2 separate regions of the Homo sapiens genome follow, and region 1 is linked to region 2. A link means that fine-mapping ties the variant in region 2 to the expression of a gene that starts in the linked region. Tissue or cell type: adrenal gland. Region 2 holds a variant in brackets; the other region holds the start of a gene. All regions are shown on one strand. Distances are between the middles of the regions.

Region 1 (8,107 bases), 720 kb after region 2:
TTACTTTTGTACCTGATGCTGATGAGAGAAGGACTCATAGTGCTTACCCCATCCTGGGTTCATCCCATCTGTTTTGGCTTAGCTCTCTGCAGGCTGCTCTGCCCTCTGACAGTATCAGGGAAGGGGCCAACAAGCCACTCTATCAATATCCCTGGGCTGATGGGCCAGTGAACTTTGGAAAACAGTCTTTCTACTGATCTGTGCCTGTGAGTAAACATAGCAACCGAACCCATAATGTTTTTAGAAGACGAAGACCACCAAATTCCCTCGTGTGCAAGCCTGGCAGCCTACTGGCCATGAGAGTCCCATCACTGGGATCTGAATCATGAAAGCAACATGACTGTCCTCCAAAAGGACAGAATAATGACCTTATGGGACAGCTGTGGTCCTTTCCACCCCCAATCCCAGGTGGCACCCACTGTGATGCCCTGCACACAAGGGACAAAAGTGGAGTTCATTGCCTTGGTACTCTAAATAGACAGCATTGGGGAGGGAGTTGTGGAGAATGTGTGTGTGACTGTATGTGACATGATGTGTGTCCCTTCTGTCCAGGGGTCTCAGGCAGGACTGACCCCCACCTCTGATGCATTCTGGGCCTGGTCCAAAGAAGTTTCAGGTTTGGATCCAACAAACGTTTACTGAGTCCCTACAAAGTTCCAAGCCTTTTACTTTATACTTTGACACATTTTTATATCATTTTATCTTTAACAATAACCCTTTAAGGTAGGAATTATCTGCATTTTACAGATGATAAAACAATCGCAAAGAGGTTCATTGATTTGCTCAAGTATATCATACAGCTTTTTTTTTTCTTTTTTTTTTTTTTTTTTTAACACACACACACTATACTCTTAGCTGAGGCCTGTCTGCGTTGGTTGCTTATCTTACAGCATTTCTTGTCTTCTCTACTTTTGGAGCGACGGCTCCCCTTTTACAAGCCCCCTTATTTCCTCTCCTTTCACTAGCCCAGGTGGGCTTTTCTTGTTTTAATACTGCATTTAATAGCACAAAAAATCACGAATACAAAGAAACTGGCAAAGGTGTTTGTCAATGATATCCCTGCCTCCTCCACTTTTCTGCTTTCATACCCATATATGTAATGGGCTACATTTTTTAGAAACTTTTCTTTTTCCCCCCAAACATATAACTGTTATGTGATTGGTCAATTGAAGCTGAAACACCCATGGAGAAAGATGTTTTACGGTTACAAGGGCACACTCCCCCCCCACCACCCCCCTCCCCCCCACACTTTCCCACACAATCTTTTGGAGGAATATAGGATATGTACCAGTGTCAGCATTTTCCTGCTCCTGCCTTCCTCACCCAGAGTGTTTCTACCATTTAATTTCCCTTTCATCAACTGCTTAGACTAGAGCCTCTTCTCCCTCCCCTTCTATTTCTCTTCCAATCAGGACCTTTTGGACACTGGGTACTGTTCAATTCTTACTCTGTCAGGCCCATGGGCCATGGTCAAGTAGGTCCTTTAGATCTCGATGCCAGTTGTAGTATTGGTGTCGTCATCTTCCATTGCAGGTAGGTCTGTGTGTCACTTCAGTAGGCTTGTGTGTTCATTTCTTTCACTTTTTCTGACTCATGTTCTAGCACCTGTTTGTGATAGAACAGTAAATACCCTTCACTGTCCAGTACGTCCTTAATACTGGCCTTAGTGATGACGGCATCATCACACTTGAACCACTGGTCCTTGTGGTGCCGGATGAAGCTGGTATAGTGGCCACTCTCCAAGGTTCCTTGGTGATTAACCACAGCAAACAAGGAATACTTATTTTCGTTGTTTCCACTATTGGTTGGCAGCTGCAATTGTCCATTCATTCTGCTCTCTTTACTTGAGGCCATAAACGGCGTCATATCCAGCTCCAGAGGAAAGGAAATGTATGTAGTGATCTTGCGCCTCTGTTTCGCTGAATGTTCAAACCGTTTGAAATGAAAACAGGCAACGACAGGTAATTTATTCATTGTGAGCTGTTTGGTAGATTCCTGGTAGCTTTGGCAACTACCACATTTGATTTTGGCACTGCTTCCTAAGTGCTCTGGCCTCGTAAACCTCCGCAAGCAGTCCGTGAGGGTGGTGATTCCTGGTATGTGGCTTTCCCCGTTCACACTGCTCTCCCTCCCTGGGCTCATGGGCCAGAAGGAGGTGCAAGAGCCAGGCAAGTCCAAACTAATGTCCCAGCATGGGTCTATCGTGGTGGAGACGCCATGGCAGGCTTGACAGGTGACATCAGACTGCAGGCCACCTGTGAAGATTTGGTCTATGATGCAGTTACAGTGGTTGGGATTGTTGGCCGCCTTCCCGACATCATCACCTTTGCAGTGCCTGTGCAGGACATCTAACGCTGCAATGAGGAACTCGTGGGCATCCTGTTGCCTGTACCCTGCTAAATGGCGGGCATGTATCCACACCAGGTGCAGTAACTTATAGGGCACATGAGGAGACGGGTTTCCAGAATACAACTCCCGAAACAGCGACGACATCTCACAGACCAGACACAACTCGGGACTCGGCATCTCACATCGGTGCCTGTCAGAGAGAAAGAAATCTCTCAGTATCGGCGTGTGGGTGAGGGCCTGGACAATGCAGTTCATAAAGCACGTGTTGCCAAGATTGATGAGTCCTCTTAAACCGATCGTAAAGCTGGAGGTGATTCTTCTTCTCCTCGGGTTGTGCCCCAGCAGTTCTAATTCTGGTTTGGTTGTTTCCCAGGTTGGGAATTTCTCACCAAGGCCTGGCACTGAACACTGCTGGTGAGAAACCTCTGTTGAGGTGGAGGCTTGTAATTTCAAAGCTTCTCCTTGCTCTTCTTTGGCAATTTGCTCAATGTCTTTGTCATATACATAGTCCTTACACATAAAGCAGTATATACCTCCGTAATACAGGTCTACTGCTAAGTTGTGTTGTTTCGTCTCTGCGTGCTCGTGAATGTGTTTCTCCGTGAAGCAGCCAAAGAAGACACAGGAAAGGCAAGAGTGGAGTCTGTTCAGATGGGTGCCACACACATGGCAGATGCAGGACTTTGCCTTGCTTTTCCTGGTCTCTGGGGTTCCACACCACACGAAGCACTGGTAGATAACCCGCAGTTCCTGCCTCCAGTTCTCTCCCACCTTAAAGCTGTTCACGTGAGAACAGCCTGGTGGCCCCACGGCAAAATCCACATCCAGGCATCCGCCCCCAGGGCCGCGCCGGGGCCGGGGCCGGGGCGGGGGCCGGGGCCTAGGCTGCGGCGGGGTACGGAGCCGGGTCTGGGGCCGGGGCCGGGGTCGGCGGCGCGGCGCACGACTGCGACGCGGAGAGGGATCGGGGGGCCGCGGTGGATCGGAGGGAAGGGTGGGGGGAGGAACCTCGTCGCTGTTGCCGCCACCGCCGCTCCGCGCTGGGTTCTCATCCTCCAGCTCCTGCTTCGGCTCCTGCTCCGCCTCCCGGACCGGCTCGGGTTCGGGCTCCAGCTTGAGCTCAGCCCGGCGGCCCGGACCCTCCGCCGTCTCCACCTTCCCAGCGGCGTCCACCTTCCCCGCCGTCTCCACCTTCTCGGTGGCGTCCACCTTCCCCGCCGCCTCCGCCTTCCCCGCCGCCTCCGCCTTCCCCTCCACCTTCGCCTCCGCCTCCACCTTCCTCTCCGCCTTCTCCGCCGTCTCCGCCTCCTCTACCTCCTCCGCCTCCACTGGCGGCGGCTCCTCCCCCTGCTCGCAGGGCTCGGGCGGCCACTGGGCGTGGCGGCGCGGGGGCCACGCAGACCTGGGGTGTCCCCCGCCCGGCCTGAGGGAGCGCGGTGGCTGTGGCAGCTGGACCCAAAAGGGACTTTCACTGAAGGAGGCGGCGGCGGAAGCAGGCGACGCCCCCGGGAATCCTCCCGCCGAAGCCCCCTAGTGGAGGCTGCTTCTGCAGCCAGGCCCCGTTTCCTTTAATTCAGTATTTTCCAAACTTGCTTGTTCACGAGAATCACGTGGGGAGCGTGTTAAAATTACAGATTCCTTGGCTCCACCCGCAGGCCTACTGAATCAGAATCTCGAAGGGAGGTACTCCGGAACCTGTATCTCTAACTAGGGCCCCAGAGGCTGCTTATGATCAGGCAAGTTTGGGAAACACAGCTCTAATTCATTGAGGCTGGCGGGAAGGGGGGCGGGGACCGCGCAGTCTCTTTAAGGCGCTTCCAGCTCTCGGCTCCAATCGCTGCTCTGACCCCCTTCATCGTCTCCTCCCCTCTCCTCGTCCTTCCCCTCGTCTATGCAGGCTTCCCTCGGCCACTGCGGGGCTGGGGGCCGAGCGGGTGCCAAGTCCAGAAATGTTTCTGAGGCTGTGAAATGTCCCCTCTGAGGGGGGTCCTAGGGAGCGCAGGCAGAAGCCGTGACAGGCCATCATTTCGGCGGCCGAGCCTGCCTCTAGCCTCGTCCCTGTCTCCCTTCCCACGCCAGGTCCTGCGCTTCCCGAAAAGGATGAAGCTCCAGCTGCAGTTCTGGGGAGGCCTGGACCCCAGCTCCGGGGGGGCCGGGCTACCAAGGCCGCTGGGCCTGGAGAGGCGCGTCCCTGGCCCATCTTATCAGCGCTCTGCAGGGTCTGGGCCTGCTGCTCGCGTCCTCCTGGGCTCCCAAGGCCACGGGTGGGTTAATGGCTTGACAGCCGGCCTCCTGGCCCAGCAGACGCTGAGCAGCCCGATGGCACAATCCACCTCTTCTCTCCAAGGCCAGCTGGAGGGACGAGGCACGACAAGGCCATCCCTACAGCTGGCACTTCCCCTACAGCTGAGAGGGGGCCTAAACTACAGGACACACTCCCAAGACCCTTAAGCCCTGGCAGCATCCCGGGGGAGGGGGGCAGCAGGTGGAAGTGGAAAGAAGCCTGTGGAGCTGCCAGCAGGGAGAGGGAGTCGGACATGAGGCTGAGAGGCCTCTGGGAACCCCTGTGCCAAGGGGCTGCTGGCACTGGGCAGCAGCACCCCAGAGCCCACGAGGAGTGTGCCCAGAGCAAGTGGCTCAGACCTGGGTCATGGCTCGAGGGTGTCGGGCTGTAGCTGCTGGTCCCAGAGAGTGCAGCCCAGGGCAGGCATCAGGACAGGAGTAGGAGGAGAAAGAGTGTTCTAGGAAGAGTCTAGTCCCCTAATCCTGGTGGTGGCTGGCTGTAGCCTAGTGCACGCTGTCTGGCTTGTGTGGCTGTGCTGCCTGAGTATACATACCCTAGCAACATTCTCCTTGCTCAGCACTGGACATCAGCTCTCCACCTGGCCCCTTCCTCTAGGGAGGGGATGGGGAGGCCTCCTAGGGTTAGCAGCAGGAGTTGGGCCTCAGGAATCAGGAGCCCTTGAAAGGAGGATGCGTGGTTCCCATAAAACTGAGGGTTGCCCTGGGCCCTACCCTTCCTGAGTCAGCTCTTGCTTCAATTCCTTGAAGCACCCCAGCATCCTTTCAATAAATGCCTGCCCTTTGTGGCCTGCAACCAGAGGAACTGCAACTAGCACACTCACTGAAGGAATCCTGCTGCTGCTGCTGCTGCTAAAAACAACCGAGGTCATGGATGAGGGGGTGGAGGATACTCTCATCCCACCTCCAGACTGACAACAAAAAGACCTAAAGATCTCTGTGTACCTGGGACTGTCTACCATTGAAGATTAGCCATGGTAACTTGTTGACTTAGTGATCAACTTCCTGCAGAAGCCCATAGGTCCACCTGGACTCTGCCCAGGCCAGCGTGTTCTGAAAATGGAGGGCTCTGTCACCATTCACTCAACAAATGTTTATTCTGCACTGACCGAGGGCCAGATGTACCAAGAGCTGTGGACACAGCACTCCAACTTACTCCAGGGCTACTGAAATCAGGGATGGCTTCCCCAAAAGGCACACTAAGGAAAGTCTATGTCACTAGCAGAGAAGAGGCACCAAAGACAAAAAATCAAAAAAGAAAAAATACCAGAAACAGTTTGACATTTGATTTTTTTTAAGTAGTCCTCGTGGGAAAAATCAGAACTTTGTTGTACTTCCTTACATTCATTTCCTGATTACATGATGCTTTTGTTTTGAATCACGTGTGGAGGGTGTCACCAAAATCTTTAGATGCTTTGTCCTTATGTGGATCTGGACCCAGATCCTAGCAAATGTTACCATCTCTGCCTCACAAAGATCTGACAGAATGCAGGCAGTTGGGGCTATCCTTAGGAGAGACAGCTCTCCTTCGCAGTAGATGCACCTGGGTGATAAATCCAACTCTGACCACAAGGTGGCAAAAGAGTAAATGACAATTCCTCATATATGTTTTGTATGTTTATATAAAACTATTGGTTTATATAAAATGCTCTCTAAAAATATTAAGAAAAACGTGTGCTCCTTCACACATTTTTGGGTTGATGTCTGATATTTTGCATCACAAATGTCAATTGGCTACAAATAATGTAATTTGTGACAAATGTTAATATTCAAAAATAAAACTGTTATGTCACTATTTCACATGAATCCGGTGAAACCTAAATACCTTAGTGACTTGAGAGCCACCATCATCTGTTTTAAAAATGTATAACTGAGCTCTTCTTTGATACTTGGAAGTTGTACATTTTCCCTTTTCTCAGCTCTTAATTCCATTCTGTTTTTCCAACAGAATTTTGTCTCAATAATTGTCTGTTTTTTCACTTGAAATGTTTTTGATTATCCTATCGTATTTCTCTGCAGCAAAAATGTGTATATATTTTTCAATTTAAATGCTCTTTAAATGTTCCTCTGATTATAAGGCTCTAAGTGTTGTTTAAAAATTTGCTCTTGTTTGAATTATCATGACAATTAGTATTAGAATAAAATGGATCAAAACATTGTGAATATATTACAAATTTTGATAGGTAATTATTAAACGTAAAACAAAAGTTCATTGTAGATAGGGCTTTTTTAAAAAAAATTAATGGGTGTATCCATGGATAAACATTGCTTTTTGCTAGAATGAGATAGGCTTCAGCATCAATTCTCTTCCTATTTTTTGTTTGGTTAAATGTTAGCACACAGAAACCTCATTTATATGAATAAGTGAATAGGAATGGACATTTTGTTTTAGCAATGCACGCAAGTCTTTGAATTCCTTTGGAGATATATGGGGGGAAATTACACAATGATTTATCCTCAAAATTATTTCTCATGATTTATCAGCTGATAACTTCATAGGTTTTTTCTTCAATTCTACTGGAAGCAAAGAATTGGAAACCATCTGAGTTGCAAAAGGATTTTATCCCCATTCATTTGTTAGAGCAAGTTGTTTGTTTACCATCGTCAGCATTGTTCGGAATTGTCTCTCCTGTGCCCCAAGGATTTTACATCACAGGGCAGCGCACCCAGGTTAAGATTCAGGATAGGTAAAAGATATGCTTTTTCTTTTGTAAAGTGCAAAAAGGACCATTGTGAAAGGGGAGATAGAAAAAGAGAACCAGTTTGATTCCTACACTGCAAGTATGTTCTCTGGCAGGTCAATTTTAAAAGACTACACAGGAAATTTGAGGATATAGAAATTGATCCCCTTAAAACTCCTGTACTCCAGGGTGATGCACATTCCACTTTAAAAGTTGCTAGTTTATATTTATTATTATAAAAGTAATATATACAATATTCGTGTTTTTTTAATAACAAGGTATACAAGGCATAACATGAAAAGTTAAAGCTCTTCCCTCCCCCGCCAATCACACCCATTTTTATTCCCCTGAGATAACTACTTGTTAGCACTTTCACATTTAGCCTTTAAGAAATTGTCTATGCAAATACAAGCATGTTTTATACATGCAGTTGTCCCTTGGTAATCCGTGGGAGATTGGTTCCAGGACCCCTGTGGATACCAAAATCCATAGAGATTCAGGTCCCTGATATAAAATGTTGTGTAGTATTTGCATATAACCTATACACAGCCCCTCATATACTTTGAATCATCTCTAGGTTACTTTGAATCATCTCTAGGTTACTTTGAATCATCTCTAGGTTACTTTTTGTATCATACCTGATACAATGCAGATGCTATGTAAATAGTTGCCGTACTCTATTGTTTAGGGCAGCGATCCCTAACCTGTTTGGCACCACCAGGGACCCGTTTTGTGGAAGACTTTTTTTTTTTAACGGCGGTTGGGAAGGGATGGGG
Region 2 (8,107 bases):
TTTGGAAGGCTGAGGGGGGCTGATCACTTGAGGTCAGCCTGGCCAACATCATGAAACCCCATCTCTACTAAAAGTACACACACACACACACACACACACACAAACACACACACAAAATTAGCCTGGCATCCATGACATGCACCTGTAACCTCAGCTACTTAGGAGGCCGAGACGCAAGACTCGCTTGAACCTGAGAGGCGGAGGTTGCAGTGAGCTGAGATCGTGCCACTGCACTCCAGCCTGGGCAACAGAGTGAGACTCCATCTCAAAAAAAAAACAAAGTGCCAGCAAGTATTTATTAAGTTGCATCTGGTAAATGAAGTTTAGTGCATGGATACCACTTACCCAATGCCAAAAAGTTTGGTGGTGACATGGAGATCCCTACCAGACGGATAGAAGGTGCTTGCCCAAAAGACTGGAGTTGCTCATGACTTGCCCAAGTTTCCTTTGTTTCCAGTGACTAGGATAGAGCCCACCATCTGTTCCTTGGATTCCAAAACAGAGGTTACAGGCACAAATCAGTTTCTGTTGATCCCCATTCTCATCCTTTGTCTTCTCCTGTTTAATTCCCCTAGATACAGCTTATCGAAAGCATCAGCAGAAAACTTTCTGTCTTGCGGGAGGCCCAGCGAGGGCTGCTAGAGGACATCAATGCCAATTCTGCCCTTGGGGAGGAGGTGGAGGCCAACTTAAAAGCCGTCTGCAAATCCAATGAATTTGAAAAGTACCACTTGTTTGTTGGGGACCTGGACAAAGTGGTCAACCTGTTGCTGTCACTCTCTGGACGACTGGCCCGGGTGGAGAATGCTCTGAACAGCATCGATTCAGAGGCCAACCAGGAGAAGGTAGAGTTGGGGTCTGTGGGGTGTGGGTAGAGGGAAATACCATTTGTTTCTTCTCAGGGCTCCCTCTTTCAAGTTGGGCTACTATAGGAAACAGTAGAGCATGGGATTAAAAGCATGTGAGCACTGAGGATGGGCACGGTGGCTCATGTCTGTAATCCCAGTACTTTGGGAGGCCAAAGCGGGCAGATTGCTTCAGTCCAGGAGTTTGAGACCAACCTGGGCAACTTAGTGAATCCCCATCTCTACTAAAAATACAAAAATTAGTCTGGCAGGGTGGCGCATGCCTATAATCCCAGCTACTCCGGAGGCTGAGGTGGAAGGTTTGCTTGAGCTTGGGAGGCGGAGACTGCCGTGAGCAAAGATTGTGCCACTGCACTCCAGCCTGGGTGACAGAGCAAGACCCTGTCTCAAAAAAAATAATAATAATAAAATAAAAAAATAAGAGTGTGAACACTGGCTTTTAAGTGCCCTGAAATTCTTGCCCTACCATTTATTAGCTGTGTGACTGTGGACAACTTACATAACGTCACTCTGCCTCAATCTCTTCACCTGTAAAATGAGGTGAGCATACTACCTGCCTTATGGGATTATTGTGAGAATTAAATTAGTTTATGTTAATTACATAAAACAGGGCCTGGGACAGGGTAAACACTGAATCAATGCTAGCTCCCAGTAGTAGTAGTAGCAGCAGCAGTTTTGCCTCACTCTAGAGTTGGAGGGGGAGGTCTCATCAAGTATTTGAGATTGGAAAGCTGTCAGTTTCACAGGTTGGGTCACTATGCATATACTCCTGAACCAAAATTGCATCACCTTTCCCTATACAGGTGGCTTTGGATATACCTTTGAATCCACAACAAGAGGCACATATCTACATACATATACATACATACACAGACACATACACTCACACATATCCACTCACACAGACACACACATCATACAGAAAGCACCTCCACAGTGACAGTTGTTCACCAGGTGAAAGGGACACAGGCTGGCTTTGTCAGAGCCTTCCTCCACCCCAAGCCCAGTGGTGGTCCCTACATTGAAGACAGCGTTAAAGAGATGGAAAGAGGTAATTTCACATCCCCTATCCAGAATTGTTGTCATGTTTACCCTCCTGCTACAGGAAACAAAGGCTTTTGCATGGAGGTAGACTTCAGGGCAGAAAATCTAGGACTGACTAATTAGCAGAATGTATAGCTGCTTTGTGGCAGCATCTCTGGTGGAGTACTGCTAGGCAGCACTGTTGGACAGATGCCTGGTAATTGAGAGAGCCCTTACTTGGTCCTCTGCTTCCCCAGTTGGTACTGATAGAGAAGAAGCAGCAGCTGACGGGGCAGTTGGCAGATGCCAAGGAGCTGAAGGAGCACGTGGACCGCCGGGAGAAGTTGGTGTTTGGCATGGTCTCCCGCTACCTGCCTCAGGACCAGCTCCAAGATTACCAGCACTTTGTCAAGATGAAATCTGCTCTCATCATTGAACAGCGAGAGCTGGAGGAGAAGATCAAGCTCGGGGAAGAGCAACTCAAATGTCTCAGGGAGAGTCTACTCCTGGGGCCCAGCAATTTCTAATTCTACCAGCACTCTGCCACAGCATCCCTGCCCAGCCATGTGGGAAGTGCTTTCAATCTTCTTTGTTAGCAGTTTCTCAGCAAGTAGATAGCAATTAGCAGTTTGTTCCAGCCCTCTACCCTGGATGTCTCTCACTACCCCTTCCCTAGCAGTGGTCCTAACCAGCTAGGAGACCCTGGGGAAGCCACAAGCTTCTACCCAAGGGAGCTGCAGCAAGGTGTGATCTTAGAACCACACTCTCCTTCCCACAGTTGCCAAGGGCAAGTACTTGCTGCACAGAGAACCAAGGAAGTGCCTTCATTCTGCTTTGTACTAGGACACCAAAGACATCAAGTACTCATCACCCACCCATATCATCAACAGCCTCTAAAGGCTCAGAGGGAATCTGCCTTGCAGCTCTACTCTGCCCCAGGGCTTGTGGCCAGCCATTTCTCACAGAGAGCTGGCTGCCTTGAGGGCATTCACCTGGCACCAGTTTCAGGGCCTCACCCAAGCTTTGCAGGGGAAAGCACAGAGGGAGGAATTACACTGAAAAAAATGCAAGCAAAGGTTGAGTACCCCCAGGTGCCCCTTAGGAAGGAACCAGGTTTAAATAGGCTCTACCCTTACCTTTCCCAGCAGCAAGTTCAGGGGAAGAGGCCTACTCTTAGCCCTGGCTAGTGTGACCCTCTTCCTGTCCTAAGACTTTGGTCCTACCACCTCTTGTTTCATCTTTCCTTTACATTGCTGGGGGTTACCGCAGGTGCCTACCCCAGGGCTTCACCATATGGGCCATTAATAGCTCTACTAAAACTGACTTCTAGATGTAGGTTTCATTATTGGGGGAGGGGGTTCTTATTGTTATATTTTAAATGGCCTTTTGATTTTATTTATTTTTATGTTTTGATTATTTTTTTCTTTTTTAACTAATAAGGCGAGAAGAGGGAAGTTGGAGAGGGAAAAGTTAGCCCAGAAGGAAAGCATTTTCTGCAGATCAGCCTGAATCCACCGTGGCTAGGTAAGCAAGTGCCAAGGCGTTGAATTGTTCCCACCATAGCTACCGATGTCTAGGAAGGAGTTTTCCCCTTGAACTCAGAGCCTCCCTACTGTGGCCTGGCCTTGTGCTTCCCTTAAAGTCTAAGTGACTTGAGTTTAGCATTCCCCAGCAGGGTTTAAGTTTTTCTTACTGATTTCTTTTTGAAACCAAAGAAATCTCCTGAAATGGAGAAAGGTTCAGTCATTTCTCTACCATCTCCAAGCTATGGGATCAGTAGAGGTGAGCTCAGAAGGAACTCCTCTAACCATTGCTTTCTCAGCCTGTGGCCTGGCTCAAGGGAACCAAAACTCAAGGTAGCTGGGAGCTCCAGCCAGAGCCAGCTCCCCAGAGCAATTGAAGACCCAGCCAGGATCTTAGGCATACAAACAACTAAAACTGCTGCTGTTGCCAAGGCCCTGACACCAGTAGCTAGTTTCTATGCTGGAAAAGCAGCCCTCAGGTGGACGATGGCAAGAAGGGGGTTATGGCCAAATGCTGCCCTGTTATCCAGCTTAGCTCCCTGTTCCTCACTAACTGGGGCCAATCCTTGGTATCACACAACCCAGCCAAGGCCTGGCATCTCTTCTAGTTACTGCTGAGTTCCTCAGGGTCCTTGAAGGTCAACTGTAGCAGCAGGGATGTCTCATTCAACCAAAGAATTTGCCAAGGAACTTTTGCTGCTGTTACAAATACTTGTCACTAGCTTCCATTTCCTCTTC[A/G]TTGTATTTGAAAACAATGGGAGAATCTTGGCCAGCAGGGTGTCCTGGGGTAGGGGGTGGGGTAAGCCTTTCTGTGGAGCTCTGGGTTTGCTCTTAGTACTGCTGCCAGAAACACTGTTAGAATGGCAACCCTGCCATTCTCCCCTCCAGTGGAAGATTCTACTTTATTCAGGAAGGCTGGTGGCTTGCAGGGGCTAGGCTTACACAAGCCAGCCAAGATTGAGAAGGTAGGGGAGTGCTTTCAATGGAGGCCATAGTTGTCATCTTTTCTTCTGAGCAGGCTCTAGGACAAACAATGAGCAAATTGAGATGTCCTGTATTGGGAGGATGAGGCTGATATGTTTCATCATTCTCAGAATTTGTGGGCTAGAGCACCTTTTTGGGAATATGGGCCTAGGGAAAAGAACGGTCACTTACCTGGACACTATGGCCATAGTCTTGAGTTTTTCTAGTCAGCATGTGATTGGTTGTACCTTAAGTTTATGACACCAAAAATACTATTAACTCTGTTATTTTTGTTCTTAATCCCATCTCAAATTAGTTTCTAGAGTTAGAATCAGAACACAAGGATGCTCATTTTCACATGGAGGGAAAGTTGCCAAAGCATTTAAAAAATAACCCCAAAAGTATATCTAGCAGTGAAGCTTGGTAGATAAAGGTGAACTGCTAAACAGACACTGGCGTGCCACACTCCTGCCAGGGCAGTCTCATTGTGTGTGACGGTGCTGCAACACTGCCAGTATTACTTGAGATGCAGTCTCTCTCCCCTGTTCTCAGTTCCTGGGCTCAGCCCTCCTCCAAGGCCTGCCAGTGAGTAGCAGTTTGGAAGGCAGGCCAAGGGAGATCCCCAAAGACAGTTATCAGTCTTAACTTCTGCTGTCTCCCGTCAAATACTTATACAGGCCCCCATGGGTAATAGGCAAGCATGATGGCTGATAGAGAAGTCAGTGCATGAGTTACTATCACATGTCCCCCCAACCCCTCCTGCCACCTCCCAGGGCTCTGGATAATTGAATCTTCCTGAGTCCCACAGCTGGAGACTCAACCAGGATATAGCTGTAAATGCCCAAGTAGAATCTGACAGAATAAGACAGAGACACTGAAAATAAAGCCCTAGAAAGGAAGAAATTGGAAGCAAAGAAAAGGAGAGGTGAAAAGATAAAAAGCCTCCTTCAAGGTTAGGTTCAGGTTCTGTTTTCCATTTAACCTCATGTGCCATAAAGCTGCCCAGGCACACCAGAGCCACATCCTGAACCCGACCCTCCCTGACAGTGCTGCTCTGCCAGTAGCAAGCCCCAGATGGAGGAAGCTGGGCCCATTTCTGGCCACTTCCACCCATTTGGAGCTTTGCCAGAGGAGTCGTCTATGCCAATAATATTTCTGCAACAGCATATTATATTATTTGAAGATTAGTAGATCTTTTTGGGGGGGTGGGGCAGGGGACAGTTTCTATAGATGAAGAACCAGTGTTGGTTGTACAGCTGTTGGGGGTCATCTATCCCATGTGAAGCTATTCTTTTTCCAAATCTTGTTGTTTCTGCATTTGTGTCCTCCACCACTCCCTTCTTGGCTGACATAGATATGCCTGCCAGATTGTCATCAAGGGTCATATTTCAATAAAAGGTGCTAAGGACAAAAAAAAATCTCATGTGTTTTAACTCAGGTGATGGAAGTCTAAAGATTCTGCTGAAAAGTACTGGAAAGGAATTTGGTCACCTATCCATAGTCCTTCACAGATAAACATATGACCAGACCCTTACCCACATCCCTAAACCCTTACCCTGGCCTCTGAGGGATGGTATTGATGCTATACCATTCATCATCCCCAGTTAAATAGCAGGATCTGCCATAGCCTTTTTAGGGGAACAGCTTTTAGACATCTATTTCAAGACCATCCTGAGTAGGGGGTACAGAGTTTAAGCCATTGGTTATTTCTGTTGTTATCACAGTATTGAAGCATGGTATTTTTCTACTCAGAAGGATCTCAGGATCACAGCCCTGCCCTTTAGCTCACTGATATATTTCTTCCTCTCTGGTTACTCAGTGGCAACATCACATCCAGTCTAACCCCATGTTTAGAATGCAGAAAAAGTCAACAATAGGTGTAATCTCAGGTATAGACCTAAGCAGTATACAGAGTCTAGTTCTGGAGTCTAGCCTGATCGAAGGTAAGCCATTCTTTCTAGACTTCTTCCAATCTTGAATTCTGTCTAGTATTTTCATCTTACTTCTAGCTGATAGTCCAATCTCACACCTTCATGCTCAGCTCCCTGGAAAGCAAGGGCCTTGGTGATCTGCTCTCCAAGGCAACCTCAAAGATTAGACTCAAATGTATTCCAGGAAGCAACTCTGACATTGAAAAGCTTTCTTTTTTCGTGATCCATATTCTGTTCACATTCCAACTATCCTCCTTCTACTCAAGATATCCATTGTGGTAGAGTAGAAAGAGTCCAGCTTTGGCATTAGAATGAACTGTGTTCAAATCCTGGTTCTGCCACTTATTCAATGAACCTGGGCTACTAGCTCAACTTCTGAGGTCATTTTCTTATCTGTAAAATGGGAACAGTATTATCTTGCTTGCAGTTATTGTAACTTGAAAATAATAAATAAAAGCCACTAACAATCCAAGAAGTTATTAGGCAGAATCCCAGGCCCACCCCAAACCCAGTGATAGCAGTCTGAATTTTAACTAGATTTCCAGGAGATTCATGAACATATTACAGCATGGGAAGTACTGACTTGTTGAAAACATATTCAGTACATGGTAACCATTATTATAGTCCTGATCTACTCAATTCATTTTTTCCTTATCCCAGGCATATTCTTGCTCTTCTCGTGTTGCTCACAACTACCTGCCTGGATGAATTTAGGAAAGTTGCAGGATACAAGGTTAAAACACAAGATCAAATGAACAATCCGAAAATGTTATTAAGAAAACAGTTCCGGCCGGGCATGGTGGCTCACGCCTGAAATCCCAGCACTTTGGGAGGCCGAGGCAGGTGGATCACGAGGTCAGGAGATCAAGACCATCCTGGCTAACACGGTGAAACCCTATCTCTACTAAAAATACAAAAAATTAGCCAGGTGTGGTGGCACGCACCAGTAGTCCCAGCTACTCGGGAGGCTGAGGCAGGAGAATTGCTTGAACCTGGAAGGCAGAGATTGCAGTGAGCTGAGACCACACCACTGCACTCCATCCTGGGCAACAGAGTGAGACTTTGTCTCAAAAAGAAAGAAAGAAAGAAAGAAAGAAAGAAAGAAAGAAAAGAAAGAAAGAAAGAAAGAAAGAAAACAGTTCCATTTACAATAGCATCAAAAAGAAAAAAGTACTTAGGAATAATTTAACAAAAGAAGTGCGAAACTTTTACACTGAAAACTATAAAACATTGTTGAAAGAGATTAGAGAAGATCAAAATAAATGGAAAGACACTCCATGTTCATGGATTGGAAGACTTAGTATTGTTAAGATGAAATGTGCCCCAAATTGATCTACAGATTCAATCCAGTGCTTATCAGAATTCCAGTGGCTTCCTTGTGTAAGTTTACAAGCTGATTCTAAAATTCATATGGAATTACAAGGGACCTGGAACAGTCAAAACAATCTTTAAAAAGAACAGTTGGAGGGCTCATACATCCCAACTTCAAAACTTACTGCAAAACTACAGTAATCAAGACAGTGTGGTACAGACACAAGGGTAGGTGTATAAATAAATGGAATTAAATTGAGAGTCCAGAAATAAATCCTCATGTATATGGTTAGTTAATTTCAACAAGGGTCCCAAGAGAAATTGAGGAGAGAATAGTTTTTTAACAAATGATGCTGAGACAACTGGGTATCTACATGGGAAAAAATGAAGTTTTCCTTAAATCACATGCAAGAATCAACTCAAAATGGATTATAGAATGTAAGAGTCAAAATTATAAAATTCTTAGAAGAAAACATTGTAATAAGTCTTC

Direction of the effects. Alleles are on the strand shown, and positions count from the first base shown. SD is a standard deviation of normalised expression in the study named.
With allele A in place of G in region 2, the expression in adrenal gland of the gene that starts at base 3,820 in region 1 is lower (large effect, 0.93 SD a copy in GTEx).

What was found. PIP is the estimated chance that this variant, and not a neighbour inherited with it, causes the effect.
Region 1: USP27X-DT starts here. The variant in region 2 is fine-mapped to the expression of USP27X-DT in adrenal gland (GTEx, PIP above 0.99).

Annotation. Positions count from the first base shown.
Region 1 is chrX:49,875,069-49,883,175 of GRCh38, reverse strand. It overlaps USP27X-DT (USP27X divergent transcript), which reads left to right and starts at 3,820. Exons shown (of 2, transcript NR_026742.1): 1 at 3,820-4,085; 2 at 4,429-6,452. It overlaps USP27X (ubiquitin specific peptidase 27 X-linked), which reads right to left and starts at 3,692. Exons shown (of 1, transcript NM_001145073.3): 1 at 618-3,692. The coding sequence starts at 2,868. The coding sequence ends at 1,552. RefSeq lists silencers at 3,341-3,420, 3,461-3,870 and an enhancer at 7,812-8,107.
Region 2 is chrX:50,591,004-50,599,110 of GRCh38, reverse strand. SHROOM4 (shroom family member 4) reads left to right here. Exons shown (of 9, transcript NM_020717.5): 8 at 576-845; 9 at 2,147-8,107. The coding sequence ends at 2,416. Among named protein-coding and RNA genes, the nearest start is that of DGKK, 120 kb to the right of the region's middle. The variant A/G (reference allele first, on the strand shown) is at 4,151.